Homo sapiens: one gene and its partner. The protein of the gene in region 1 interacts with the protein of each later gene in a pairwise test. Each region holds a gene or a part of one and is shown on either strand. Other genes may lie near its edges. The genes, in order: MATN2 and CACNA1A.

Evidence for each region.
Region 2: the proteins of MATN2 (region 1) and CACNA1A interact in a two-hybrid assay, tested with the Homo sapiens proteins (one study listed by BioGRID and IntAct).

Annotation. Positions count from the first base shown.
Region 1 is NC_000008.11:97,860,413-97,875,692, forward strand, and holds the start of MATN2 (matrilin-2 isoform a precursor), read left to right. Parts: upstream 1-8,651; 5' UTR 8,652-8,875; intron 8,876-15,280.
Region 2 is NC_000019.10:13,492,281-13,507,162, forward strand, and holds the start of CACNA1A (voltage-dependent P/Q-type calcium channel subunit alpha-1A), read right to left. Parts: upstream 14,200-14,882; 5' UTR 13,945-14,199; coding exon 13,652-13,944; intron 1-13,651.

The DNA of each region.
Region 1 (15,280 bases):
GCTTAGATATATTATTAACTCTATCCCCATTTTACAGGTGAGGAAACCGAGGGTTTCAGAGGTAATTAACTGGGCCAAAGTCACCTAGTAAGTGGCAGAGGACTTGAATGCAGATTGAATACATCAAAGTAGGTAATGCATTTCTTTGAGACATCTAGAATTTCAGAATTCTGTACATATAACTTCTTGCTTCTTAACAATCATCAATTTCTACTAATTTGAATTAATACATCCCAAGAAGGAAAGCAGGTTGTGCAAAGCTGTGTAAACTGTAAACTTGGGGTGGATCTTCAACTTGAAGTTCGTGTTAACATAAGTAAAGCTGTCAGTTTCCCATTTAATTAGACTGGAAAATGCTCTGCAAATATCAGCTTTTCATTGTTATAAAGAATGTATTCAGGCAGGAAGAGGGATCAACAGAGGTGGGCCTTTTAGAGTGGTTGTTTTTAAGGGAGCAATTTCCTTTTGAGGAATTGTCCCTGCCCCTGCCCCAGAAAGCCAGTATCGCTGTCTATTTTCACACCTATCCAATAGAGACAGAAAAGAGTAGTCAATTCCCATGGGAGTGTAAGCTTTTTTTTTTTTCCCCTGTTGAAGTTAATGCATTGTATCATCTGTGTCCCTGAGAGTTAAACTTCCTTAAACATCTTAATACAAAATCCAGGTATGAGCTGGGCATCAAGACACATTGCAAACTCATAGGTTTCAATAAAATTACATAAGTAATGGATTGCAAGAAGGAACAGAAAATAAAGCCAATAACATCCTTTTGGTCTCCATCTGAAAATGACTTCCTTCTAGAAGCCTATGGCCTACCAATCTGAGTGGCATTTTTTTTTTTTTTTTTTCTTTTTGAGATGGAGTCTCTCGCTCTGTCGCCCAGGTTGGAGTGCAGTGGCGCGATCTCAGCTCACTGCAACCTCCGCCTCCCCGGTTCAAGTGATCCTCCCACCTCAGCCTCCTGAGTAGCTGGGACCACAGGTGTGCACCACCATGCCCAGCTAATTTTTGAATTTTTAGTAGAGATGGGGTTTTGCCATGTTGGCCAGGCTGGTCTTGAACTCCTGGCCTCAAGTGATCCAACCCCCTTGGCCTCCCAAAGTGCTGGGATTACAGGCGTGAGCCGCTGCGCCTGGCCCTGGGTGGCATTCATTTTATGTTCTTCCATGGCATCCTCAGCATCCCCAATCAAGGTATATCTTCCGCTCTATGGTTACTGCTTTTCTTGTCGATAGTCCCCCAGTAGATTATAAACTCACAGAGAGTCTATGTGTTACTTATTGCTCTGTTCGTGTATGGCACATGTCTGGCAGATAGAAGGAACTCAAAACATATTTACTAGAATAAAATAAAATAAGCACATAAGGAGAATTAAAGCCAGCTGTAATCCCATCCCAGTGACTGCAACAAATTTTTAAAAGCAACTCAGTGGAGCTCAAGTTCCATAGAGACAATTCAGAAGAGCCTACTAGAAAAAAATTCCATTCCACCGGGCGTGGTGGCTCACGCCTATGATCCCAGCACTTTGGGAGGCCGAGGTGGGCAGATCATTTGAGGCCAGGAGTTCGAGACCAGCCTGGCCAACATGGCAAAACCCTGTCTCTACTAAAAATACAAAAATTAGCCAGTCGTGGTGGCACATGCTTGTGGTCCCAGCTACTTGGGTGGCTGAGGTGGGAGAATCACCTGAGCCTGAAAGGTTGACGCTGCAGTGAGTCATCATAATACCACTGCCCTCTAGCCTGGACAGCAGAGTGAGACCCTGTCTCAGAAAAAAAAAAAAAAAAAGAAAAGAAAAAAGAAAAGCAAAAAAAAAAAAAAAAGAAAAAGAAAAGAATTCATTCATTCCTATAGATGATGCAAGGAGACCGCGGGAAGGTCACTGCTCCAGCAACCCTGCCAAAGCCACAGCTGGAGTAGTGTGTACTGGGCTGGGGGGCTTTTAGGGGAGTGTCGACTTTTAGAAGAAAGTTGTAAAGGTGATAACAGCAACACAGTAATAAAAGGATTGCTTTCCGAAGAAAGATTAAAGTCCCGCTAAGATGAGAGGCTACCTAATAGTCTGCCTAAATTTGAAATCAAAAGGAAACCAGCATTCTTAGTTCTTACTATTCTTGTGATCAAGTCCCATTCACGTGAGCTTAATTCAGTAGGAATCTGAATACAAAATTAAATTGCTAGATGTGTCTCCTCTTAGGAGCTTTCTCTTTTCCCTTTCCTAGTAAATCGTTGTTAAAGCAATAAATGACCAAATCTAAGACCTTGGTGGAACCCTGAGACCTTGGATAAATGGGGGGGAATTCTCAACAGCTACTATGCAACTTAAAGATAGTGACCTGTTCACCTACTTCCTGGTCACTTCAGATTTAAATGAAATCCCTGTAAGACCATACATGATAAACCTTGTTTGTCTTTAATCCTTTATAAGAAGATCACAAAATTCCAATAGTAAAAGCAATGTAAATTCCCCTGTGGCAGGTACCATAGACTCAAGCACAGAAATTCCCACTGCAGGCAATTTCTGCAGTGGAAATGAATTTTTTTTTTCTTCAGATACTGTCTCACACTGTCACCCAGGGGAGAGTGGCACGATCACGGCTCACGGCAGCCTCAAACTCCTTGGCTCAAGTGATCCTCCCACCTCAGCCTCTCTGAGTAACTGGGATTACAGACATGCGCCACCATGCCTGGTTAATTTTTTTTTTAATGTTTTATAGAGACAGGAGTCTTGTTATACTGCCCAGGCTGGTCTCTAACTCCTGGCCTCAAGCAATCCTTCCACCTCAACCTTCCAAAGCACTGAGATTACAGGTATGAGTCACTGCACCCGGCCTTCAGACTTTGTTCTTTTTCTTTCAAGATTATTTTGGCTATTAGCATCAACCTGTCAGTTTCTGCAAAGAAGCCTCTGTGATTTCAGTAGGAATTATGTTGAATCTGTAGATCAATTTGGGGATACTGCCATTTTATTAAGTCTTCCAATCCATGAATATGGAATGTCTTTCCATTTGTTTAGATCTTCTGTAATTTCTTTCAATAATGTTTGCAGCTTTTAGAGTATAGAGTTTGCATTTCATTTGCTGAATTTCTTTTCTTTTTTTTCTTTATTTTGAGATGGAGTCTCACTCGGTCACCCAGGTTGGAGTGCAATGACACGATCTTGACTCATTGCAACCTCTGCCTTCCAGGCTCAAGTGATTCTCCTGCCTCAGCCTCCTGAGTAGCTGGGACTGCTGGCTTGTGCCGCCACGCCAGGCTAATTTTGTATTGTTAATAGAGACAGGGTTTTACCATGTTGGCCAGGCTGGTCTCGAACTCCTGACCTCAAGTGATTCACCCACCTCGGCCTCCTAAAGTACTGGGATTACAGGCGTGAGCCACCACACTCGGCCTATTTTTGTTATTCTTGAATCCCCATTTATTGAGCTCTGCCAGCGGGCTGGGGGATTTTATAGAATAGATGCACATAGACATTGCCCAAGTGTCTGGCAAACTGATTTAACACCAGGCATCCCATGCAGACATAGACTCATTAATATCCTTGAGAGAAGGTAGTTAGTTGAGTGTCACAAGGATGAGGCTATCGGCTCCTAATAGCCGACCACTTTGTGCCAATTTCTAGGTTTAGGAATGAAAGCAGCAGCAATCTGTGTTGCTGAGCGATGCTTCCATAAATAGCAGGTCCATCCTCCATTTCCAAAGTGAAACCTAGTCTGCAGGTAGACAGGCAGTGTTTCAGCCTTGTCAGTATCCAAGAAAACAAATCATATTTGTGCTCACTATTGCCTATGCATTAAGGCTCCCCACTTTATTATCTCATTCTTTACATTAATTTTTTTTTTTTTTTTTGTAGAGATGGGGTCTTGCTGTGTTGCCCAAGCCAGGCTCACACTCCTGGGCTCAAGGGATCCTCCTGTCTCAGCTTCTCAAGTAGCTGGGACTACAGCCAACTGCAACTGCCTATTATCTCTCTTTTAAAATCTGAGACGGGGTCTTGCTCTGTTGCTTAGGCTGGAGTCTGGAGTGCAGTGGTGCAATCACAGCTCATGGCAGCCTCGACCTCCCCAGCTCAAGTGATCCTCCCATCTCAGCCTCCCAAATTGCTGGGAGGCTAATTTTTAAATTTTTAAAAAATTAATCCAGCTAATTATTAAATTTTTTGCAGAGATGGGGTCTCACTGTGTTGCTCAGGCTGGTCTCAAACTCCTGCGCTCAAGTGATCCTCCTGCCTAGGTCTCCCAAAGGGCTGACATGACAGGCATGAGCCACTGTGCCAGGCCTTATCTCATCCTTGATAGGAAGCTGCATCAATCTGATTCCACAAAACTACAAGGCTCTAAAATCCTGGTTAGAGCCGGTGTAACCCAGTCCCTTCTACAGCATGGCATAGGGCAAGATCTATAAATAAGCAAAAGGCCCAGTCCCTGTCCTCAGGAGCTCATGGTCCAAGTCAAAATCACATAAAAACATTTGAGTCCCCTTTGAAATGAGTATTGTTTTCTTGAACAAATTTTCAACTTGCTGTAGTTTTTTTCCTGATCACTTTCATCCTGTCTTTCCAAGATGGGATATGTTTATTTAGAAATTACTTCACCTGGGACAGCTGCTTCTCTCTTTTGCTCAGGCCCGTAGCACTGCAGGATGGGCAAGTGTCGTGGACCTCATACTGCTAGGAGTCTCTGTAGTCACCAACAAGATCAGAAGTGGCATGATAAACAGTACAAGAAAGCCCATTTGGGCACAGCCCTGAAGGCCAACCCTTTTGGAGGTGCTTCTCATGCAAAAGGAATTGTGCTGGGAAAAGTAGGAGTTGAAGCCAAAAAGCCAAATTCTGCCATTAGGAAGTGTGTCAGGGTCCAGTGGATCAAGGATGGCAAGAAAATCACAGCCTTTGTATTCAGTGATGGTTGCTTGAACCTTATTGTGGAAAACCATAAAGCTCTGGTTGCTGGATTTGGTCAAAAAGGTCATGCTGTTGGTGATATTTCTGGAGTTCGCTTTCAGGTTGTCAAAGTAGCCTGTGTCTTTCTTTTGGCCCTATACAAAGGCAAGAAGGAAAGACCAAGATCATAAATTTTAATGGTGAAAACACTGTAGTAATAAATGTTCATATGCCAAAAAGAAAAAAAAGAAATTATGTCACCTGGGACAATGGTGCCATCAGTCAGCCTGTCCTCAAAGGAACCCTCTGGACATGGACCCAACTGTCCATGTAGATGGGGTATCCCAAAGGGAGCTCTGCCCTGCCTACAGGGTTCCCCTCCCTGGGCTGGAGTCCAAGCTCATCCACTACCTTGGAACATTCCCTTAACCCTGCATCTCCAGCTCCAACAAATGGGCAGCTGGCCGGATATGAAGATGTTTCCTCTCCTGGCCTTCTACTTGAGGGAGACAGGGAGGAGCTCTAATAGTTTACATAGGACTCAAACACTGTCTGTCACCTAGGGAAACAGTGCACGTGAGATGACATTGCAATTTTACATGTCTCCTCATGCATTCAGTAGAGCTTTATTTTAGGTTTATAGGTCCGTGAGGCAACCTGTTTCTTCTTCAGTTTCCTTATACTGTACTCTGGTCCCCTTTGGATTTGACAGTCTCATTTCAATCTGCCCTCTAGGCCAGATAGCTAGGTCTCAAGTAAGAAGGATTCTAATGCAAAACAAAAAGTTCTAATGTTTACAAGGAGCAAAGGGATGCTTATGTTTAAAGTCTATATTCGAGGCTGTTCACGAGTGTGAGGCCTGGGTCAAATGACTCTCCTGACCCAAATCCTTACTCCACAATAGACTACGTGGAGATCGAGAACTGAGAGTTGATCCCAAGTATAGCTACTCAGGTTGTGATTAGTTTAAACAGATACCAATTCCAGTTAACTTGTGAGCTCTTAGGAGTTCTCAGATAATACATACCTCATTTTTGTCTGCTTACATGAGTGCCCACATAAGAACTGAAAATCTGTTTTTTTTCTTTCTGGGACAGAGTCTCACTCTGTCACCCAGTCTGGAGTGCAGTGGTGCAACCTCGGCTCATTGCGACTTCTGCCTCCCATGTTTAAGTGATTCTCCAGCCTCAGGCTCCCGAGTAGCTGAGATTACAGGCGTATGCCACTACACCCAGATAATTTTTGTATTATTATTATTATTATTATTCTTAATTTTTATTTTTTGAGATGGACTCTAGTTTTGTTGCCCAGGCTGGAGTGCAGTGGCACAATCTCAGCTCACTGCAACCTCCGCCTCCCAGGTTCAAGCGATTCTCCTGAGTTGCTGGGATTATAGCCTCCTGAGTAGCTGGGATTATAGGCGCCCACTACCACACCCGGCTACCTTTTGTATTTTTAGTAGAGACGGGGTTTCACCATGTTGACCAGGCTGGTCTAGAACTCCTGACCTCAAGTGATCAGTTCGCCTCAGCCTCCCAAAGTGCTGGGATTACAGGTGTGAGCCATCGCCCAGTCCCAGAACTAAAAATCTTAAACCCACACTTCTGAATAAGGTTCTCTGTACATCTAGCACATGGCAGGACCTCTAGCAGAAAAGGCAATTTTGGCCTTTTCCTAATCTATAGTCTTAATTATCAACTTGCAATTCATCCTGAAGGTAACCCAGAAATCATTTCATTGTTTGTTCTGCCTTTATATTTCAGGACATTGAACTTGCTTTTCCTTCATTTTTTTCTGGCAGACCTGAAGATCATCCCACAAGGTAGAACAACTCATTTAACCTATTTGACTTGGCCCCAAGTGTAATTTGTACATAGATTAACTATTCTGAAGAATTCCAATAGAACTCCCTGGGGGGAAAACACCCATTTTAATTGGCATACACCAGAGTCACTGGAATCAGTTACTAAATTACAATTTCCTTACAATTTGGAAGGGTTTGGGGATTGTTATTGTTTTCCTGGTAAATTACTGGATCACACTGGTGTCTTGGAATAAGTCAACACATTTTAAATTTAAGTTTCCATAAACTGTAGCTCAACTTCCCAAGTTCCTAGGGGATTTTCACTGGCCCAGACTCAGGAAGAATTTTCTTCTATGGGATCCAAGACTTCAGAGACCAAACATTTCCTGAAGACTTTCCTCTGCTTTCTGACCTCCACCTACCTCCTCCCAAAGACATAACAAAAAAACTATTTGTGATCAGTGCAGGCAGCCAAGAGTGCCCAGTGGGCCTAAGGTACTGGGTAAAGGAACAGGAATCCACAATTCTTTCTTGGTATTAAGGTATCATTGACTTGCCTGATGGCTCGAGTATGTTAACCCCTTGCTTCATGGCTGGAATTTTAATTACCCCTCCTGGAGCTTTTCTGAAGAATTGATTTTGGCGTTTATTCATATTTCAGAAATCAACTCTATCATCAAATAGGAATGATGGTTAATTACAAAACAAAGTCCGCCCAAAGCACCAAATTATCAGACTGTGGCACATCCAGAGGTTTTGAAACTAGTTAGTGCTGCTGCCTCTGCTGGTAGCTTGTTAAAACCTGAACTGGGGCCGGGCGCAGTGGCTCACGCCTGTAATCCCAGCACTTTGGGAGGCCGAGGCGGGCGGATCACGAGGTCAGGAGATCGACACCATCCTGGCTAACACGGTGAAACCCCGTCTCTACTGAAAATACAAAAAAAATTAGCCGGCCGTGGTGGCGGGAGCCTGTAGTCCCAGCTACTCTGAGGCAGGAGAATGGCGTGAATCCGGGAGGCAGAGCTTGCAGTAAGCCAAGATTGCGCCACTGCACTCCAGCCTGGGCGACTCCGTCTCAAAAAACAAACAAACAAACAAAAACACAAAACCTGAACTGGGTGCGTTGGCTAGTGGTTTGGGAACAGAATTTTGGAGCTTTATAGGAGATGTCCTGGTCTGTTATACATCCACTCACCCCAGCCTCCAGGAACTGGGGAGCTGGTAGAGGGGGGTGCCGGCCACTTTGACTGTCGCTGGCCAATCCTGTCTTCTGCATCCCTCCAAGGCTCCATGGGGACATCCAAGGTGAGGTTCCTCCATTCTGCAAAGTTGCAAATGTCTCTGCTCATAATTTCAAAAGTCTTGTCTGAACTAGACTTTCCCTGCTCCCTCGGGGTAGGAATTTTGTCTCCTCTCCATCCTGGCATCTTTACCTCCTCCCCATCCCGGGGCCTGGTCCCCAGCCAGTGGACGCTCTGTTAATATGAACTGGCACTGGTGGGGTGCTCTGGGCACTGGCAAGACAGCTCTTGGCGCTTGTCATCAATTAGCCCAATTCTCACCACTTTTTTCTCCATCCCCGCGTCAGTGGGTGCGTCCCGCAGGTCATGACCCCAAGTTCTAGATGTAAGATTCCTGCCATGTCTCCTTTCCCCCAGAAGACCCCTCCCCGCACTCCCAACCCGACAGGCCCCTAAAGCTGCCTGTGTTCCGTGCCTGCGGCTCCGGACCCCTGGAGTCTGATGCCCGCCTGGGCTCAGGCACGGACGGAGTGGAGCCAGGTGGCAGCAGGCAGGGCGCGCCGCCAGAGTGCCCAGCTCCCGGGGCTGCCCACAGGGTGGGGCCGCCCTCGCCGCCGCTCCCTCTCCGCGCCTTCCCCATCCCCAAAGAGGACACCCCTCCTTCCGCCCGGCCCGCTCCCCACCCCCGCCGCGGCACCGCCTCCCCAGCCGCCCGCCCTTGCCCAGCGCCTCCCAGGCAGCCAGCGAGCGAAGGGAGCGCTCTGGGATGGGACTTGGAGCAAGCGGCGGCGGCGGAGACAGAGGCAGAGGCAGAAGCTGGGGCTCCGTCCTCGCCTCCCACGAGCGATCCCCGAGGAGAGCCGCGGCCCTCGGCGAGGCGAAGAGGCCGACGAGGAAGACCCGGGTGGCTGCGCCCCTGCCTCGCTTCCCAGGCGCCGGCGGCTGCAGGTGAGCGCGGCGCGCTTTCCCCCGGCTCTGCGCGGCCGGGCGGCCTCGAAGTGCAGGCGGACCGACCCACCGACAGAATACCGAGCCTGGGCTGCCCGACGCGCAGGCGCCCTCCCCAGGCCCGCACTGCAGCCCCCAGCGCCCCGGGGCCCCGGCGCCTTCGACCCCTCCGAGGACAGGGGGAGAGGGAGGGCGGCGCTGCCCGACCCCTCGGCCGGGAGAGCTGGGCGCGCTCCCTGCGCAGGACAAGCCGCGCTGCAGCCGCCCCGGAGTGCCCCGTGGGGGCGCTGTGGCACGCAGCGGGGACGCCCAGACCCCGGCCACCGCGACCCAGGGAAAGGGAGACCTGTTGAGCGGGTATGCAGGGTGATTCCTATTCCACGGACAGCCGATGGCTCCCCCTTCCCTCTTCGGAACCTGGTATTTTCATGCCCGTGTCATCTGGATTTTGTTCTTGGGTCTCTATGGCAGCTAAACCTCCAGCTTCCCTATATTGTGGAAGAGGGAGAGAAAGGGGAAGGCATTTTGTGGTAGTTGCTAGAAACCCCAGAACAATTTGGAGCCGTTTGGGGAGAGGACAGAGAAATGGGGACTGTCCCTGGTAGGGTCTCCAGGACTGGGGGCACAGGAAAGTGCTCTCCTCAGGGACACTCGCGCCCACCCTGAACAAACCCAATTGACCAAGTTTCAATTTGTCATAAATCAGGAAGCCACAATGCATCTGCACCAAGCACACTTAAAATCGGCCTTTAAGGAATGGGGCAGTCAAGAGACTTCAGGGACCCGTGGTCGAGAGCAGAGACTGGGGTCAGCCTGCTTGGGTTTCAACCCCAGCTGTGAAGTTTACAGGGTTGATAACTTGAAGGTACCCAAGTATGCCTCAGTTTCCTCATCTGTCTAATGAGGATGGTAATACCCACAGAACTGTGAGGATTAAATGAGATATGGCGGCCGGGCACGGTGGCTCAGGGCTGTCATCCCAGCACTTTGGGAAGCCGGGGCGGGCGGATCACCTGAGGTCGGGAGTTCGAGACCAGCCTGACCAACATGGAGAAACCCCGTCTCTACTAAAAATACAAAATTAGCCGGACTTGGTGGCGCATGCCTGTAATCCCAGCTACTCGGGAGGTTGAGGCAGGAGAATCGGTTGAACCCAGGAGGCAGAGATTGCAGTGAGCGGAGATGGTGCCATTGCACTCCAGCCTGGGCAACAAGAGCTAAACTCCGTCTCAAAAGAAAAAAAAAAAGATATGGCAAGTAAAGTCCTTAGAACATTTCCAGGAGCATTCTAAGATTAGGTGAGTTCCATGGCTTGTCTTTGCAGAAATAGCAAGGAGCTGCTATGAGCAGTGAATGTACCTCTTCCCCAGTTCAGAAAGAGAGGCTCTCCATGGGTACGTGAGGGTGGCAGATAAGCCACGTGTATGCAACTGGTAGTTCCATGCAGGAGTCCACACGGGCGCAGTTCTCCCTGCTTGCTCCCAAAGGGCCAACCTCATAAAACCATGTCAAAATACCAACATGGGTTTATGACCTGGAATGTTTCCTCTCAGTCCCTGAAACTTGGCACTTAGAATCCTCTGTGGAGAATGAGATACTTATGGCTCTTCACCTTGCATTTTCCTATCTGTCCACACTTTTTACTTTTATTTCTGCCAATAGAATTCAATCTCAGGCCCCCGAGTTACCAGGACACTGTCTTCTATAAATCGGGGCTCTGGGGTTTCTTGTTCCCAGGCAACCCAGGGCCACCAAGGCCTAAGCTTGCTTGTTGGAGGTGTCAGAGCAGAGTCCAAATCTGAAACACCCTCGAGCAGCTGTCATGCCCTAAGCTCTTATCAGCGAGTGCCATATGTCCTTGTTTAGCAAAAGGTAGTTAAAAGTGTGGCCTGAGATTTAAAGAAAAGGAGAGATGTTTGCTCTTTGAAATAAGAGAGCCATTGGAGGTTCTGGAAAAATAATTCTACAGTTTATTTAGAAACAGTTCTGACTGGCACCTAAGAGAGGGCAAGGAGTGAGGTGGGGAGACTAAAAGGGGGAGAGACCGGCTTAGGCCTCAGGAAAAGCAGGCCGAAGAGGGTGTGACAGGTCTAACGCTGGCCTGAGCAAGGTGTTGGGTATGAGGCTGGGCAAGCAGTAGGAGAGGTGAGTGGTTTAAGACCAGTCAAGTTGGCAGAGAGCCTCTAGTGCTGCCCCTGGCACTCACTGCCCTCTGATCTGTAGCACCTGCAGGAGCGTCCCTTCCAGGGATTCCCCGTCTTCTAGGGAAGCTATGGAGGACTCCCCTGTTTAAAGCATATGGCAAGATAACTCAGGAGGGCCAGGGAAAGAGGGAGGCTGAGCATATGCCAAGGGGAGAATGGGGAATGTCATTGCTGTTGCTAGTGAATGGTGCCAGGGAGGTCCTTCCAAGGGGCCACTTGCCACTTGGAGCTTCAGCCCATGAGGCCATCCTTGAACCCTGCCATGTGGCTCGGCAGACAGCCAATACTGCCTGAAGGGGGCTCAGATGGAATGGCAGGGCTGGGCTGTTGCCAGTAATTGGTGTTAATGACTATGACAGTGGCTTTGACATGGATGAGATGGAGTTGGGGTACAACCCAAAGCACACTGCTCTTGGCACCCGAAAGACCTGGGTTGCAGTTCTAGCCCCTCATACCTGCAAAGATTTTGGAAAGTTACTTAGACTCTCTGTGCCTGACATCTGTTTCTTCATCTGTAAATGAAGACTGGATTTTTTGGGAGAATTAAATTAGTTAACAGGTGTTCAGTGCCTAGCTCAGAATAAATGCTCAATATTTGTTAGCTATACTTACTATTATTGTCTGAGCCTTGGTTTATATCATCTGTCAAATGGGCGTGATACTATGTCATAGGGTTGTTGTAAGGGTTAAATGAAATAATTAATGTGAATTTATCCAACAGTGTGTGAAGGGTGTAAAGTACTCAAAGTGAGTCAATTGAAATGGAAAATTTCACAAAATACCTGCATGTAAAAATCAGCGGCTGAGCAGGTGGATCAGCTAACATTTTTGGAAAGTTATTCTAAAAGTACTGTCAGAGGAACCTTTATCTACTTATGGAAAGTGGGGCTCACTGCCCATGGGGATACCCTGTAGTTATTTTATGTTGTTGTATTAGTTGCCTATTGCTGCTATAACAAATTTCACAAACATAGTGGCTTAAAACAACCCTAAGATGTTATCTTGCAGTTCTGAAGTTCAGAACTCTTAAATGGGTTTTGTAGAGCTAAAATCAAGGTGTCAGCAGGGCTCTGTGGTTCCTTTTGTAGGCTCTTGGGAAAATGTCTTTCATTTTCTGACTTCTAAAACCTGACTGCATTTCTTGGCTCTTGGTTCCTTCTTCCATCCTCAAAGCCAGTAACAGCATCTTCCAACCCTTCTCCCCATCCTGACTCTCGTGTCTCCCTCTTACAAAACCATACCTAGAAAATCTGGGCTAATCACTGCATCTCATAATTCCTAAGTTAATCACATCTCCAAAGTCCCCCCGTTTTTTTTTTTCAAGACAGAGTCTCGTTCTATCGCCCACGCTAGAGTGCAGTGGCGTGATCTTGGCTCACTGCAGCCTCCGCCTCCCAGGTTCAAGTGTTCTCCTGCTTCAGCCTCCCAAATAGATGGGATTACAGCCATGAGCTACCACACCTGGCTAATTTTTTATATTTTTAGTAGAGATGGGGTTTCACCGTGTTGGCCACGCTGGTTTCGAACTCCTAACCTTAGGTGATCTGCCCACTTTGTCCTCCCAAAGTCCTGGGATCACATGCGTGAGCCAACCGCACCCGGCCCAAAGTCCCTTTTGCCATGTAAGGCAACACAGTCTGGGGATTAGGCCATAGACATCTTTGACATATTATTCTATCTGCCAGAAATATTAGAGTATTAGATTGGGCATGATGGTAAGAAAAACTATTTAGAAAAAAGAAAGAAATATTAGAGTATTAGAGAAAATGATCTAAATCAAAGAGTTTTAGCTCACTTCTGTTTAGGGCTTCTCCCTGTACCCTCCCAGTTAGGTGAGTTTGTTTTCACATCTCTTTTTTTCTTTTTTTTTTTTTTCCCAGACAGTTTCTCTGTGTTGCCCAGGCTAGAGTGCAGTGGCACAATCTCTGCTCACTGCAACCTCTGCCTCCCAGGTTCAGGTGATCCTCCTACCTCAGCCTCCCAAGTTGCAACACCATGCCCTGCTAATTTTTGTATGTTTAGTAGAGACAGGGTTTCACCATGTTGGCCAGGCTGGTCTCAAACTCTTGACCTCATGATCCACCTGACTCAGCCTCCCAAAGTGCTGAGTTTACAGGTGTGAGCCACCATGCTTGGCTGTTTTCACATGTCTTAAAGACCAAAAGCTCAAGACCAGAGGGGTCAAGGCTATGGATCAAATGCTTCTTGAAACTCAGTTCAGAAATGGCTCCTTCCTGTCCTTTTTGGGCTTTCTCCCTCCCCTTGAGTAACCCTCAAATTTGTTTCTTTTTTAGATTTTTGTAAAAACTTTTTTTTTACAGAGACAGGGTCTCGCCATGTTGTCCAGGCTGGTCTCGAACTCCTGAGTTCAAGTGATCCTCTTGCCTCAGCCTCTCAAAGTACTGAGATTATAGGCGTGAGGCACCACGCCTGGCCAGTAACCCTCAACTTTGGCCCTTAGAACAGTCACTGTTGCCCCATCAACAGCATTTGTTGACTTTTCTAGCTGCTTCTCCTCTTCCATTTCTAGTGAAATAGAAAAAATGCCCTCATGTCCAGAGCAAGATCTCTGTGAAGCAAATCACTCTAGTGACGTTTGACCTCCCTGAGATTCCCAGACGGTGTCTGTACTAGTTTCCTATTGCTGCTGTAACAAGTTAGCACAAACTTAGTGACTTAAAACACAGATTTATTATCTTACAGTTCTGGAGGCCACAATTCTGAAATGGTTCTCATGGGGCTAAAAATCCAGGTGTCAGCAGGGAGAATTTGTTCCCCTGCCTTTTCCAACTTCCAGAGGCTGCACGCATTGCTCGGTTTGCTTCCATCTTCAAAGCCAGCAATGTCAGGCTGCATCCTTCTCTCACTGCCACACCTCAGATCTCTCTTCTGCCTTCCTCTTCTTCTTCTTCTTCTTTTTTTTTTTTTGTTTGAGACAAGGTTTTGCTCTGTCGCCCGGGCTATCATGCAGTGGTGCGATCACGGCTCACTGAAACCTCAGTCTCCCGGGTTTAAGTGACCCTCTTATTTAGGCTCCCAAGTAGCTGGGACTACAAGGATTGTGCCACCATGTCTGGCTAAATTTTTTTTTAATTTTAATTTTTTGTAGAGACAGGGTCTCTCTATCTTGCCCGGCTGATCTTCGACTCCTGGGCTCAAGCAATCCTCCTGCCTTGGTTTCCCAAAGTGCTGGGATTACAGGCATGAGCCACCATGCCCTGACCTCTTCTACTTTTTTTTTTTTGAGACAGAGTCTTGCTCTGTTGCCCAGGCTGGAGTGCAGTGGTGTGATCTCAGCTTACTGCAACCTCTGGCTCCTGGGTTCAAGCGATTCTCCTGCCTCAGCCTCCTGAGCAGCTGGGATTACAGGCGCGAGCCACCATGCCTGGCTAATTTTTCTATTTTTAGTAGAGATGGGGTTTCACCATGTTAGTCAGGCTGGTCTCGAACTTTTGACCTTGTGATCTGTCCGCCTCGACCTCCCAAAATGCTGGGATTACAGGCACAAGCCACCGCCCCTGGCCCCTCTTCTACTTTTGAGGACGCTCGTGATTACATTGGCCCACCTAGATAATCCAGGATCATCTCCCCTTTTTTAAGGTCATCTGATTAGCAACCTTAATTCCCTTTGCCATCTAACATCACATATTCCCAGCTTCTGGGAATTATGATGTAGACATCTTTGGAGGGCAATTATTCTGCCTGCCACAGGACCTGAGAAGGAGTTCCAAATAGTGTCCGCCTGGGCTGCCTCATTCTTAATAACCACCCCCTTCCAGAATGTGCACAATGGCCCACTCAAGAGAGAACACCTGTTAAACTCTTCAAAATTTCTCCCGCAGCTCTCAGGTCTCTCAGTCCCTCTGTTGGTGGAAGGATCTGAGGGCAATAGAGCCTGGAACTGCACACTTTATTTGTTAAGTTAATTTTTTTCTTTTAAATCAGAGGAACATATAAAAAGGTGCACAAATCATGAGGGAAATCTCAATGGAGTTTTACAAGTGAGCACTCTCCACTGTCATGTAACTGCCCCCAAGATCTGCACCCATAGCCCCCTTTGGACCCCAAATAAATTATCGTCTTCCCCTAAGGCAACTACTATTTTACCTTCTATCACCATAGGTTAATTTTGTCTGCTTTATCTTACTTTATTTTTTATTTTTATTTTGCTCTCTGGATCTGTGTAGAGTATTTGCCTGTT
Region 2 (14,882 bases), on another chromosome or scaffold:
CCAAACAGCCCACAGAGATCTGGAAAATGCTCTATGTCTTAAGTCACCAAAGAAATGCACAGGATACCACAACAGGATTTCACTTTCACTTATCTGATTGGTGAAGATGTAAAATCAAGGGAGGGCAAGCCTGATTGGGCCACGTCGTCAGGGAAAGGGGACCTTGGAATTTGAAAGGGCACAGACTTCCTGTTTCTTGCAACCTGGCCCAAAAGCCTGACATACAACCTTGCCATACCATTTCCAGGAATCTGTCCTAGGGAAACAGTGACAGAAGTGTGCAAAGACTTCTCTACCAGGATGCTCACTGCAGTGTGATCAGTGTTGGTGGAAAAACGGCTGGTCTCAAAACAAATATACAAAAGGAAGCCCATTTTTGTTATGAAAATCAAAAAGTTTAGGTATATCGGGGGGAAAAAAGGAGTGGTTATTCCATTTCCTTTGGAAAAAAACAAAATCCTCACCATAGTTCACAAAGCCCAGAATAAGCCAACCTTGTCACCTCCCTGCCCTCACGTCCTCCCATTCACCTAGCATACAGTAGGTGCTCAGTCAACATTTATGAATGAATGAACGCACTCCTTCCCATTCCCCTCCATCTCTAAGCTGATATGCTCCAGGGTCTCTCTCCTGTACGTTCCTAAGGGTGTGGGGATCAAGGGGATATAGAAACACAGTCCATACCAGCAGCATTCACCATGCCAGGAGACCAAAGAAAGTAAGGCACGATTTTCAAACAGGGCAACAGAAGGGGAAGGAGAGAGAAGGGGAGGCCGCCGCAGTTTTCATTCCAACATTTTCCAGCTCTGGGTGAGATTTCCTTCTATACACTCATCTATATTTACATCAACGAATCTGTCGGTAGCAAGCCTGTTGCTTCTTGTGTGGGATCTAAAGTTCACAGAAAGCTGGCTTAGACACCCAGCTAGGAAGACAAACTGTAAATTAAATTTAAGTCACCCAAAAACCCTAAATCCACCCACTCCTCTTGAAGAAACCCATGACATCGATTACATCAAGATTTCTCAACCTTGGTATTACTGACATTTGGAGCTGGATAATTCTTTACTGAGAAAGGCTGTCCTGTGCATTTTAAGATGCTGAACTGCATCCCTGGTTTCTACCAGCCAGATGCCAGTAGCATCTTGCCCCCTCCCCCTACATTCGTGACAACCAAAAACGTCTCCAGACATTGCCAAAAGTCCCCTTGGGGGAAAAATTGCTCCCAGTTCAAAAGCACTGCTTTACATGCAGCCCAGGAAAAATTCCAAACCATTTAACTGTTCTTTCTCTGTTCCTTGTCATCAACATCCTGAATATACCAGTCACCTGTTCTCAAAATTCCTTCTACAGATTCAAAGAAAGTGGTAACAGCAGAGTTTCAATTATGGGCTTGGAGTGCCATATATAGACAGGAATTTCATTCAGAAAACTATCAGAACCTTGGACAGAGATTCACACACAAAGATGTTTACTGCACTGTTATTTATAATGGCAAAACAAACAGCCAGAGATTGTTACATGAATATAATACACGTATAAAGTGGAACATTATCAGATATTAACAACAGTCTTTTCTGGGGTTGCCACCAACCCATACAGCACCACTGTATGAATTTAAACAAGACACCCCTTTCTCTGGTTGTGAAATTAAACAAGACACCCATTTCTCTGATTGTGAACTTAAACAAAACACCCCTTTCTCTGTCAAAAATTGTCATAATAGCTTCATCTTGCTAGAACAAGATACTTAAGCTTTTATCAGCTGGGGTACTGAAATAGTAGACATACAAGCTCCATGATACTTAAGATATGTGACATGCTATCTTTGTGCAGTGCACAACCTGTGCAACTATACATGGTGGCCCTTATTTTTTCAAGGATACCTAGTGGCATGGAAATGTGTTCCTAAAAGTTTACATGCATAAAAAGGTATGGGATGAAATACATTAAAATGTCTTCAGAGATTTTTTTGTGGATGAGAGAGTATACATATATTTTATATTCTTTTTTGTACATGAGATGTTCAGTAAATGAAAAGGATAGGCCTCTTGGAGGAGGTAACTTTTGGGCTGAGACCTAAATGAAGAGAAGGAGTTAGCCATGGGGAGACCTGGAGAAACAGTGATGCAGGCAGAGGAAATAGCTTATGCTGAACAGAAGGAATGTCATGTAATGCAAATGACATGGGTGTGAGTAAAATGGTCAGCAGGGCTGAGACAGAATAGACAATGAAAGGAAGGTAGACAATGAAAGAGATGAGATCAAAGACAAAACAGGGACCAGATCACATGGGGCCTTAAAGGACCTTGCTACATCAGTGTGTTAGTCCGTTTTCACACTGCTATAAAAGTAATTTATAAAGAAAAGAGGTTCAATTGACTCACAGTTCTGCATGGCTGGGGACGCCTCAGGAAACTTACAAATCATGGCAGAAGGCAAAGGGAAAGCAAGGCACGTCTTACATGGCAGCAGGAGAGGAGAGAGAGGAAAGAGGCCCACACAAGTTTAAAACCATCAGATCTCATGAGAACTCACTATCACAAGAACAGCATGGGGGAAATCACCCCCATGATCCAGTCACCTTCACCAGGTCCCTCCCATGACATGTGGGTATTACAATTTGAGATGAGATTTGGGTGGGGACACAGAGAAAAACCATATCAATCAGTAATCTGTAATCTCTGACTAGTGGGTAAGAATCTGGGGCATTTACCCAATCTGCTTGGAAGAGAAAGAGTCTACCAGTCCACCACCACATGCTATCCTATCCACCAATGGAGCAAAATCCAAGGAATTCCACTTTCAGTCCCAGTGCTGAAACAAAACCAGGTGTTTCCAGAATTTTAATAATCTTTGTTCAATAACACTGTTTACTTTCCTCACCATTACTCAATTAAATACTTATGCATGATATAGTGCAGGAACTTTGGGGGGATGTGAGGAAGGCAAATCACTGTCCCCTACCCTCAAGGAGCTTTCTAATTACATAGGTAAAACCTAAGCATATAATATTTATTTATTTATTTATTTTGAGATGGAGTCTCGTTCTGTCGCCCAAGCTGGAGTGCAGTGGCATGATCTTGGCTCACTGCAAGCTCCACCTCCCGGGTTCATGCCATTCTCCTGCCTCAGCCTCCCAGGTAGCTGGGACTACAGGTGCCCGCCACCACGCCTGGCTAATTTTTTGTATTTTTAGTAGAGATGGGGCTTCACCCTGTTAGCCAGGATGGTCTCTATCTCCTGACCTTGTGATCTGCCTGCCTCGGCCTCCCAAAGTCCTAAACATACAATCTTATTGATTTTTACAAAAGTGTGCAAAATTCACTTGATACTGGAAAAGGTACAAATAAGGTGGTAAGCGGAGAGACTTGGTCATTCCCAAGTCAAACAGAACACCAAATATCAGGGAGACCCACACATAGACAGCTACCCTACCATACACCCTTATATCCAACATCCACCCATCCACCCACCCATTCAACCATCTATCATCCACTCATCCACCCATCCAGTCATCCATATTTTTACCCCTCAATCCAGTCTAGTCATCTGCCTATTTATTCATCCAGCCATATATTCACTCATACACCAATCCATCCAGTCATCCATCCAGTCATCCATTCACCCATCCATTTGTCCACCCACCCATCGAGTCATCTACCAATCTACTTATCCACCCACCTACCCTCCAATCACCCATCCTTCCTTCCTTCCTTCATCCCATCCATCCATCCATCCACTCATCCATGCATCTGTTCAACCATCCATCCATCCATCCATCCATCCATCCATCCATCCATCCATCCACCCAGACATCCAACACTAACTGCAGAGGATGCCTCCATCCCCTCTAAACCACAAACATCCAGCTATGATCCATAACTTAAAAGACTGCGTTGTGATCAGAAACAGGCCACAAGTCAAAAATTTGCATTCTGACAACTCTTTCAAAGACAACTCAAGTCTCTAAACATTTCTGACCATTCCAATTTGTGTAAGACCCAAACACTCCATGTCCTTGTAAGGCCCTCAGAGAAGCTAACCTATATTTGGTGCTCTGAAGTATTTGATGTCTTCAAAGACGGTGCCCTTAGGGAGAAGGTAAGACTAGAGACAGTATAGTTAGAGGAAGGGGAAGCTGTGGGGAGATTGGAGAGTCTGGCAATGGGGCATAACAAATGAGAGAAAAAGATTAGAAACATGGAAGAAGGATTGCTGAGACGTGGGGAAAATCCTACTTGGGCCTAGGAATCATGGAATTCTAGTATGGACAATCAATGAGACCTTGTGATTGTGTTCTCCTTGGCTTATATATTGGAGCAACAGTGATTCAGCTGATCATTCAGAAGAATGGGTTAACAACACAGACGCCAAAAATAACAGAGATCAAGGGAGTTGAGAGACTTGGCAAGAAAGAGCAGAATATTAACACTTATGCAGCACCTACTGTGTGCCACACACTATTCTCAGCAGTGGATCAGAGAAGCCCAAATATGGCCACCCACATAAGTCCATCCATCTATCCACTCTTCCATGTATAAACACATATAGTGCTTCCTAAGTGTCAGGCACCACTCTAAACATCAGATGTATTAACTCATTTAATCCTCCCAGATAGGAGCTATTAGGATCCCCATGGAGCTATTAGAATCACCACTGGGACAGACTGGGAAACTGAAGCACAGAACACTTAAGTGACTTGCCCAAGATCACGCAGCCAGTGACTAGTAGAGCTGGGATTTGAACCCCAGCCACCTAGCTCCAGAATCCATGCTCTCAACTCAACCATGCTGCTTCTCTACAACCATATCAATTGCCAGTGTCTAAACCACAGGTTCTGACTCTCAGAATACAAGCAGGACCAAGAGCTAACCGGTTGACCCAGCCTCTTAGAGAAAATGATGAGTAAGCTGTGAAATGTCTTAGCTCCTGCCATAAATGCTGATGAATCTCAGCTGATTCTAGGTGAAGCTAGATTTCCAAGTACACAGACTAAAATTAACACCTCGAATTCATTCATTCAAAATTATTGATTCCTTACAGCAGCATTGTTCATAACAGCAAACAAACAAACAATCCCCCACCCCAAACTAGAAACATCCCAAATGCCCATCGTCCTGCTTGAACCCGGGAGGCGGAGGTTGCAGTGAGCCGAGATCGCGCCATTGCACTCCAGCCTGGGCAACAAGAATGAAACTCCATCTCAAAAAAAAAAAAAAAAAAAAAAAAAAAAAAAAAATATATATATATATATATATATATATATATATATATATATATATATATATATATATATAAATTTATGTTGTTAAAGCTGGGTACGGTGGTGCATGCCTATAGTCCCAGCTTCTCGGGAGGCTAAGGCAGGAGGATCGCTTGAGCCTAGGAGGTCGAGGCTATAGTGAGCCATGATCATGCCACTGCACTCCAGCCTGGGTGACAGAGTGAGACTCTGACTCAAAATAAATAAAATAAAATTCATTGAGTTGGCTACTTCACAGGATGATTATATATGCCATGTGCTTTCTGGGTACAGTATCTTTTAACCTTCTTACAATTCCTCGGACATAGGACTACTGTCCCCGTTTTACAGAGGAGAAGACTGAGGCTCCACAACTGTGAGCTGGAGCTGAGATTTGCAGCCAGGGTGGACTGTTCCCAAGCTCTATATGTCTCCCCTCCATCCAATATCACCTTCCCTCCTCTTTTCCTCCTTACAGCCTCCACTGCTTGTGCTGTTAATCAAACAGACACATTCCTATGCAGACGCCACAACATGCCACGAACACATTTCACTGCAGTGATGGTCAGCATAGCCCTCCCACCCACACACACCATGCCCATCATTCTCAATAAAGAAGATAATAAAGATCATGGAGATAAAAGAACGTGACAGACTCTGGAAGATCAGAATCCATGTAACACCACTGCGGGCCAAGTTTTAAGTCTGCCCCAGAGTCTCATTGAAGACAAATCCATCCACTTTTACAAAAAGGTAACATCCAGACTTCGCCCTCCTGCAAATGCTGTTCGTATGAAAATACTTTAAAAATCAGTTTAAAATTACATATATTTTTTACACATAGGCCTAAAATGAGAACAGAACTTAACAGCATGAATATTATTTACTGGCAAGTGGGTGACTAAGTTGGGTTTCCCTCATGGCTTCAGAGAGGGGACTCTTGAATCCTGTTATTTGGGGGCTGGGGGTGGGAGGCTGCTAATTTCTAACTGCAGGTGCCGCCTGAGCAACAGGCACCTTTAAGGAAGACTCACGGCTGCTCCCAGTCTGAACGGCAGATAAAGCCGTGTCTGACCGAAGCGAGATGTCAAAACTTGATCCGGACTTAACTCAGGCATTTCCCTTCATAGCTGGAATCTCTCTTGTATTAGCTGCCTTAAAGACGGCTTCTAAAAGCTGCATTCATTCCAATAAAAAGTCTTGGCTTTTCAGAGGGAATAAGTAACTGACTCTCCCCCTTTCTTGGTCAACGGCACCATCTCTTGCACCATTCTTCTCTCTCAGGTGTTAAGAACTCACCATTAGGGTGACCAGCGTCCCAGTTTGCCCAGGACTGTGAGTTTCCAGAGATGCTAAACCCAGGATAGTCCCAGGCAACCCTGGCTGAAGGGTCACCCTACTCAGATAAGAACTGAGGCCCAGTGGTTTTTGAAACCTAAGTTGCTGTGCCCACTCATGGTTCCCTCGCCAGGAATGTTCCTTGTTTTTCCTATTTTTTTAGGGAGTGAGGAGAAAGAAGACCAAAGTTTGGAAGGGGAGGGGGGTACCTAAATTCTAAACCAAAAGTTGAGCAAAGTTTTTCTGTGGAGTTTGCAGTGGACACCTGGGGTGGCCATCCTGGGCTGCACTCTCGACCGGCCCCAAAGGAAGAGACAGGGAGTGCAAAAGGGGAAGAGGGAAGCTAATTATATACTTTAAAACTCCCTCACCTTGTCACCCACAGAGAGAGGGAGGGACCAAAGGAGGAAAGAGAATTAATTTTTACCTTAGACTCAAGGGAATAGAAAAATGGGTCAAGTGGCCACGAATTTTTTTTCCCCTGAAAGCTTCCAGAGAGAACGGAGAATGCAAAATGTCCAAAGGTGGCTTTAAAGAGCGCCACGATCAGGTTAATCAATCCACACTGACCAGTCGCAGGGGGTGGTGGGGGGGGGCACTTCGCTCCCATTCCCACCCAGAAAGCCTCTTTTCTGGCCGGTTTCCAAAAAAAGAACACTGGAACCTAAATGACTCCATAGTATTACGGCTCTGGCGTTTTGGGGTTTTTCTCTGTGCTGGAGACTGTGCTGGCCATTTTTCACGCACGACCCCATTTAATCTCCTGAGAGCCCTCCAAGGGAGATGCTACTAGAAGGAATATCCTCATCATGCATGTCAAGAAATAGGCTCTGGTGCCCAAGATAACATGGCTGGTGAATAATGTGAACCTGGGCCAGTCTGACCCAGAGTCCGGAGTGTTTTCCCTCTCCTCTCTGCCCTCTTTCAGAGCAGGCACCATCCCATCCGGCCCTTTTCTCAGGAGCTGAGCTGGCATTCTCGGAAATGCGTTACTGCACGGCTCTTAGGCTCTGATCATTTCTGGATGGAGTCCACCTTCCCGGCGGTGCTTTTTATTGCTGAGAAAGTGTATATGTGTGCTTGCTACTGGGGGGGAAACAGGGAGGGGGAAGCATAAGCCCTACGCACCCAACAGATGCCTCCCACTCCAAGTCCCTGAAGAAAGACTTCATTCTCAAGGGGCCGCTGCATCCAATCTACTCAAGCACTAACATTTCAGAAACTTTCATTGGTCTGATAATCTCATGGACAGTCTCTCAACCCCCTGCAACTAAAACCCATCAAAATCCTAAAACGTTGGCACAAGGGTAGATCAGATAGATGTTATACAATTTAGTTAATGGGTGAAGACAGGTACCTTTTCTCATTTGCTCAGCAAACGTTTATAGGACGCCTGCTTTGTCCCACACACTGGGGTTGCAGTGGTGAAGAACAGGGTAAAGATCATGGGTCTCACAGCCTCAGAGCTTGACTTTTTCCTGGGGAATGGTAGAACTACCAGGGAGGGGTGGAACCCCACCCAAGAGAACCCCTTCTTTCTCTCTCTCTAGTGCAGGCACATAGCTTTGAATGACATCCTTAATCTTTCTTATTTCTCTGACCGGGATTTAACACTATTACTTCCACTCCTTTCCATAGATCCACATCCTTAATCCTAAGCCATCGAGGCCAGACGTGCTTTGGAATTCAGAACTCAGGGCTTTTAGACGCATTGCAAAGATGGGAATGTAAAATGGTACAACCACTTAGGAAAACAGTTTGAGAGCCTCTTATAAAATTAAACATACACCTACCACACAACTCAGCAATCTCACTCCTGGGTTAATTTACCCAAGAGAAATGAAATGTATGAAATGAAATGTTCCCACTAAAACCCATAAGCCAATGTTTATAGCAGCTCTATTCATAATCATTGAAACTGGAAGCATCCCAATGTCCTTCGGCTGGGAAGCAAACTCTGGTCCATCCATATCATGGAATCCTGCTCAACACCAAAAAGGAAGGCGCTACTGTCACAGGCAACAGCATGAATGAATCTCAAAGTCTGAGTAAAAGAATCCACATTCAAAAGGCTATATACTGTGAAATTACATTTATATGACCTTCGGCAAAAGGCAAAGCTGTAGGGATGGAGAACAGATCAGTGGTTGAAGGGGCTGGAGAAGTGGGGTGCTGACTCAAGAGGGGCACTGTGGGGGTATTTTAGGGTTGATGAAACTGTCCCATATCTTGATTTGGGTGGTGGCCACAACTACATCCATTTGTCAAAGCTTGCAGACCAGTATGTCAAAAGGGTGAATTTTGCTACAAATAAATTATACATCAATAAATCTATTTTTTTTTTGAGACAGAGTCTCAAAAAAAAGTACAGTGGTGCAATCTCGGCTCACTGCAACCTCTGCCTCCCAGGTTCAAATGATTCTCCTGCCAGCCTCCCGAGTAGCTGGGATTATAGACGCACAATACCACGCCTGGCTAATTTTTGTATTTTTAGTAGAGACGGGGTTTCACCATGTTGGCCAGGCTGGTCTCGAACTCCTGACCTCATGATCCACCGGCCTCAGCCTCCCAAAGTGCTGGGATTATAGGCGTGAACCACCAGACCCGGCCCCTATAAACCTGATTTTTAAGGAAAAGAAAAATGATAACAAGATGTCTCTATGATCTAACCTGGATACTCCAACCCTAGCCCATGAACTTACCACATGGGGAATCCCTAGAAGCTAGCTAGAAAAGCAGAATCCCAGACCCCACCCAAATCCTGCTGGACCAGAACCATCCTGTTAACAAGACAACTTCCATACACCTGAAAGTTTGACAGGACTACAATGCAGACCTAACAGTCAGGAGCTGAAGCAGCACCTCATCATCAAGCACATCTAACATTTCTGCTGCAAAACATACTCAAATGCACACCAAGTAGAATGAATGAAAACTGTAAATTAAGACTTCAAACTGAAGTCAGTTCAGGTTAGGTTTTACCTCTATATGAGCTCGTCTTTTGGTTTTTGGAGCTTTTTGGATTGGGGAATTGTGGATAAGAAATTGCACCCTTTTTGAAAATACTCCCATTGGAAAAGCCGTGCTAAATTTTACTTCGCAGAATTTTGCTCCTCTGGAAATACCAGCCAAGCCGGTCTAGTACAAGGATCACGTAAGTGACACCATCCTGCCCTCTACGGCAGTACCTTCTAGAACATTCTATCTCTCAGGACAGGCCAAGAGTCTGATAACCTGCTCCCATGTCTCCCAGCGCTTCTCATGCAGAAAGTTTCTCTTTAGAGAGCTTTTCTTAAAAAAAAAAAAAAAAAAAAAAATGAGAGGAGTGCCAATCAGCCAATGTCCACAGATGTCAAAGTGATGTCACCTGATGTCAATGTGACTTTAGGTGTCTTGTTAAGATTTCTGCAAACCGGATGAAAAGCTGGAATTCTACGTGTAATTCAGGCAACTGTGCGTGATAATACACTGACCTGCTTCCAGTGTTCCTCCGATGGCCTGAGTTTCTACATCATGTTCAGTGGGAGACCTGGTGGCACAGGGAGGGCTGGAAAGATGACATTCACCTTGGCACTTGGTAGAAGGAGTGAGTGGCATTAAGTGGGGAGGGAACTCTAGGAAGGCTGACAGATGCTCCTTTTTGAGCTGACAGATCTGAGCTCTTCGGCAATCATCAGAGACCCTCATGGCCCTATTTGAATCACAATTCCAGTCAATGAAAACATGAAACCAAGGTGTGTGGTCAAGACGGCTTGCTGCCTGGCATGAGAAAAACACGGCAATGTAAATTTGAACATCAAAGACTTCCATTTGGGTTTCCTCACTTAGGAAGAGGGGAAAAAATGAAATAAATGAGGATTCTTAATTGTCATTGATGGCTTCAAGTTTGACCCACTGAGGGATGAAAGAGGAAGAAATCATAGTGACAAATTGCCCCGAGTGTGGAGAAAGCAAGACTGCATCCTTCACCAGTGTACCATGCCAGAATTTACATTTGGAAGTAGCACTCTTAGGCCCTGTGAGCATACCGACAAGTTCATGGATCATTCACTCACTTCTCTTAAACAAGACAGGGAGGAACCTGCTTTCCATATCGACCTGCAACCCTTAGTCAACACCATTTCCAAATACACATCCCACAACACATGCATCAAAAAGTAGCAGGGGCGATTCCACTCCTATCTAAGAGAACTGTGGGAAAAAAATAATAGAAGACACAAGAATGTTCCCAGTGGCACAAACAGAAATGACACAAATGCCCATCAACAGTAGAATGGATAGATTGTAGTAGAGTCACATACACAGATGTGAGCAAAAGAAGCCAGTGGCAAAAGAACGTACTGTGTGACTCCATTTACATGTTTAAAAGAGGCAAAATGAACCTTAGAAGTCAGGTGAGCGGTACCCTTGTTGGGGGAGCAACTAGGAGGCGGTATGGGGAGGGGGACTTCCAGGGCACTGATCGGGACCTGGGTGCTGGATACGTGGGTGTGTTCATTTTGTAAAAATCTATGCATCTGAATATATGTACTTGCCTGTACATATATTAGACTTTATTTAAGTACCTACACACTTTTTTTTTCACTCTCAGGATATGCTGAAACATTTTTTTTTAATGGCAGAAATATTTAGATTAAAAAGTAGAATGTTCTGCCCTGGTATCGTGACTCTGACATTCCACGTGTCTTTCTCTTTACACTGGCCTGAATTCTTTTATTCACTACCTCCCTCCCCAGGTCTCTGTCCATCCCCTCTCATCTCCAACCCTCCCACCCACCCCGCCACCGCCCTCCGCTCCATCCAGGACAGAGAAAGCTCAGTCCTGGATGACCCAGCTCGATGACAGATTGTGAGGTGGGGAGTTTTCCCTTCCAGAGTAGGGCTGTATAATGTGTTTGTTACCTCGGGTCAAAGAGAACAAAAACAGTCTGCAGAGAGCATAATGCACAAACTCATCATAAGAGCAAGAAAGCCCCGGGCGAGCTGGCCAGAGAATAGATGAAGTGGCAAGCAACACTCGCAATTCACCTGCCTCCCTCTCCCACGATTCCCCCTTCCGAGGGGCCACTGCAATCCCCCTCTCCCCCAACAGCCCTCCAATCTGCAGGATTCAGGCTGGACAGAGGTAAGCTAAGGACACAGCAGAAGGGCTCCCCACCTCCTTCCTTTCCTCTTAGAAGTCTCCAAATCCAGGCTCCAGAAGGCGATCTAAAGCCATTTTCAATGAGGAAACCTGTCAGCCGAGCAAAGCCCTCTCACTCCTGGAGCTAACTGGGTGTGCACCCATGAATACCCTGTCCTCCTGCAAGGCACTCCCACTCCTCACTCTGTTGATAGGCAGAGTAATCAAGCCACCCCTGAGCACTTCAATGGGCCTGGGATGGTGAGGAATTGCTAACCTTAAGAACCAGCCTCTTTAAGAGTCTGAAACTTAGGAAGCAAAGACCTGGCACCTGCTTTGGGCACCAACGGAGATGGCATCGTAGTTAGAGGTATGCTCCCCTCAAAAGCACCTCTGCTGAACTTCTTAATTTTCCCCACCCTCAAAGTAGACCACTCACACACTCCAAAACCTCAGTGCCCTCTGTTGCAATCCCAGCACCCAGGATCCAAGCGCCAGGCTCGATTTTGAACCCCCCTGAAGTGAGTCCCTCTACCACCCGCCATGCTCCTCAAACAGCAACCCCCGGAGACCACACAGGGCCCAGCCCCGTTTAGTCTATAACTGCAAAACCACATACAAAAGGGATAGGGGACTCATCGCTGAGCCCCAGGGACCCATCCAGCCCGTTCATTTTTACACAGAGGGCAGCTGGTTGGAACTGTGCGGAGAAGCGGCACATCTGGGCATGGCACAGTGGCCAGCCAGCCTGGGCAGCAGGGTGTGTCCCCCCTCCTGGAATCTGGGTCATGCTTAGATAACTGCTAGAAAGCCCGACTAATTACCCACCCTTGCCTGCCTACATCTCGATAGATGTTAAGCCCTCCTCAAGGTTTATTTCAAGCAGGCAGGGATTTAAAGAAACACAGAAGATCTGCATTTTGATAGCATCTCCACAGAAGAAAATGTGGGCTTCACCTTTTTCCTCTGGATCTTTGATTAAAAAAAAAAAAATTTAAAAGGCATTTACCTACCTAAGATGTCCACATGGGTGCTGATTCTCCTGGTGTTCCCTCTCGGCTACTCGGGGTAGGAAAAGCTGGACATGGTGCTCTAAAATGGACCCACCACCTCATTTGCTGTTGCCCTGTCTTTCTTACTGAAAGTGTCCAGATCAGGTCTTCCCAGGCCAGGGGCCCAGATAAAGCAAGTGGGATCTCTTTCTCGACACCCCCAAAGATGATGAGGTTCCCCAATCAGCGGTTAAAGGCAATGGGACCTGCACACATGAGGGAAACATAAGCGCCCCCCAGCCCATCACTATCCTCTCCAGATAGGAACAGCGGCCCACCCTGGGGTACTCACTTCGGCCAGTGCTGGCTTCTCAGTGTGAAGGCCACATGGACTCCCTCTTGCTCTTAGCCCTGGGAGCCCCCAAGCGCCCTGCCCTAAAAGTGCGGCGGCCCCCCACCTTGGGGAAAGCAGTAGTGGAGAGGCTGTCCAGCTTCCCCTGCGTGGACTCCAGTGAGCGACGGCCAAGAAAACCCAACCAAGGCCCCCATAGTTCCCCTGCCCTGGCCAGAAGCGCCCAGGCCCGAGCCCGCTCCAAGCTCACTCCGTAGAACTCCAAACCCTCCGGACTTGGCTCGAAAGCCCCCACCAAGGCTCCTGCACGACCCCAGGCCCCAGATCTCATTCTAGAGTCGGTCCTTGGGAAGGATCCACTCTCCGCTGCCCACCCCCCAGCCCCCCACAAACCCATTCCCAAGCCTCCAGGGTAGCTCAACCCAGCTCGGGGTGGAGAGATTCTTTCACACTCCTCCCGGTGCCCCCTCTCCCAGCCCCTGGAAGACCCCCCTCCTCCCCACCTCCCATCAACCCCCGGGTCTCTCTCCCAGCCTGGAAGAGGGGAGGCGGAGGGAGGAGGGGGAGGCGCAGCTGCTGCTGGGGTTCGGGCAAAAGGATATGGCCATTCGGTGATCTTTTTGGCGTATTTTCTCACCACGTTGTCTTCGCTGAAGAGGAAGAGAGACCGGTTAACCGTGAGGCAGTTCTGTCGGACGGGGATGGGGTTGTAGAGTGCCATGGTCCGCGCTCTCTGCGCCATTGACTGCTTGTACATCCTTTGCGCCCCGGGCTGCCCGCCCTGCCGGCTGCCCCCGGCTCCTCGCCCGCCTCCGCTGCCCACGACCACCCCGGCGGCTGCCCCGGAGCCTCCTCCCCCGTAGCGGGCCGGCATCTCGTCTCCGAAGCGGGCCATTCTGCAAAGAGCAAAGGGCTCCGGGTTACGCTGCGGCGAACGATGCGGAAGACGCCGCCGCCGCCGCCGCCGCCGCTGATGCTGAGGCTGCCGGGGCTGGGAGCGCGGCGGCTGGAGCTACGACTGCGGAGACGCTCCACGGCCCAGCCCATCGGGCGGCGGCGGCTCGGCGCCTCGGGTCGGGGGCTCAGAAGGCGGCTGCCCGGGCCGAGCCGGGGATAGCAGCTCGGGACATCTTCCTGGCTGACCCCGGAGAAGGAGGGGCGGGAGGAGGGTGCGGGGGCGGGGCGCGGGGGCCCGGGGAGGAGGGGGGAGGGGAGAGAGAAGCGAGGCAAAAAATAACCGAGGAAGGAATCCAGGCAATCCCCAGTCCACCCACTCCGGAAAAAAAAAAAAAGAGACAGTTAAAAAAAAAAAATCCACCCAACGCACACCCCCTTTAAGACGCGAACGGTTTGCAAAGGACGCCCCCCCCGGGACGCAGTGGAAGCTTCAAATTCCTCCGAGGTCCGGGTCAGGCTGGCATCTTGCAAAAGGAGTGCGCTCGGCCCATTAAAAAAAAATAAAAAATAAAAAATAAAAAAATATATATATATTTAAAAATAAAGAAAGACGAAACCCAGGTCTGGGTGGGGAGGGCAAAAAAAAAAAAAAAAAAAATTAAGTGCCCTTCTGTTTTGCTGGAGTTCCTAGACCTTAAAAATGCTGAAAGATCTGTAGCTCCAAAAATAAAATAAAATAAAAACAAAGAAGATGAAAGGGAAGGGAAAGAGGAGGGAAGGGGAGTAAGACGCTCCAGAGGGTTCCTAAGGAGTCTTCACACCGCAGGGTCCAGGTTTAAAAAAAAAAAAAAAAATTTTTTTTCTTCCTGAATCACCAACGGCTGCCTCTTCTGCTCCCGGAGGAAGTGTGAGTGTGTATGTGCGCACAGCGTTTCG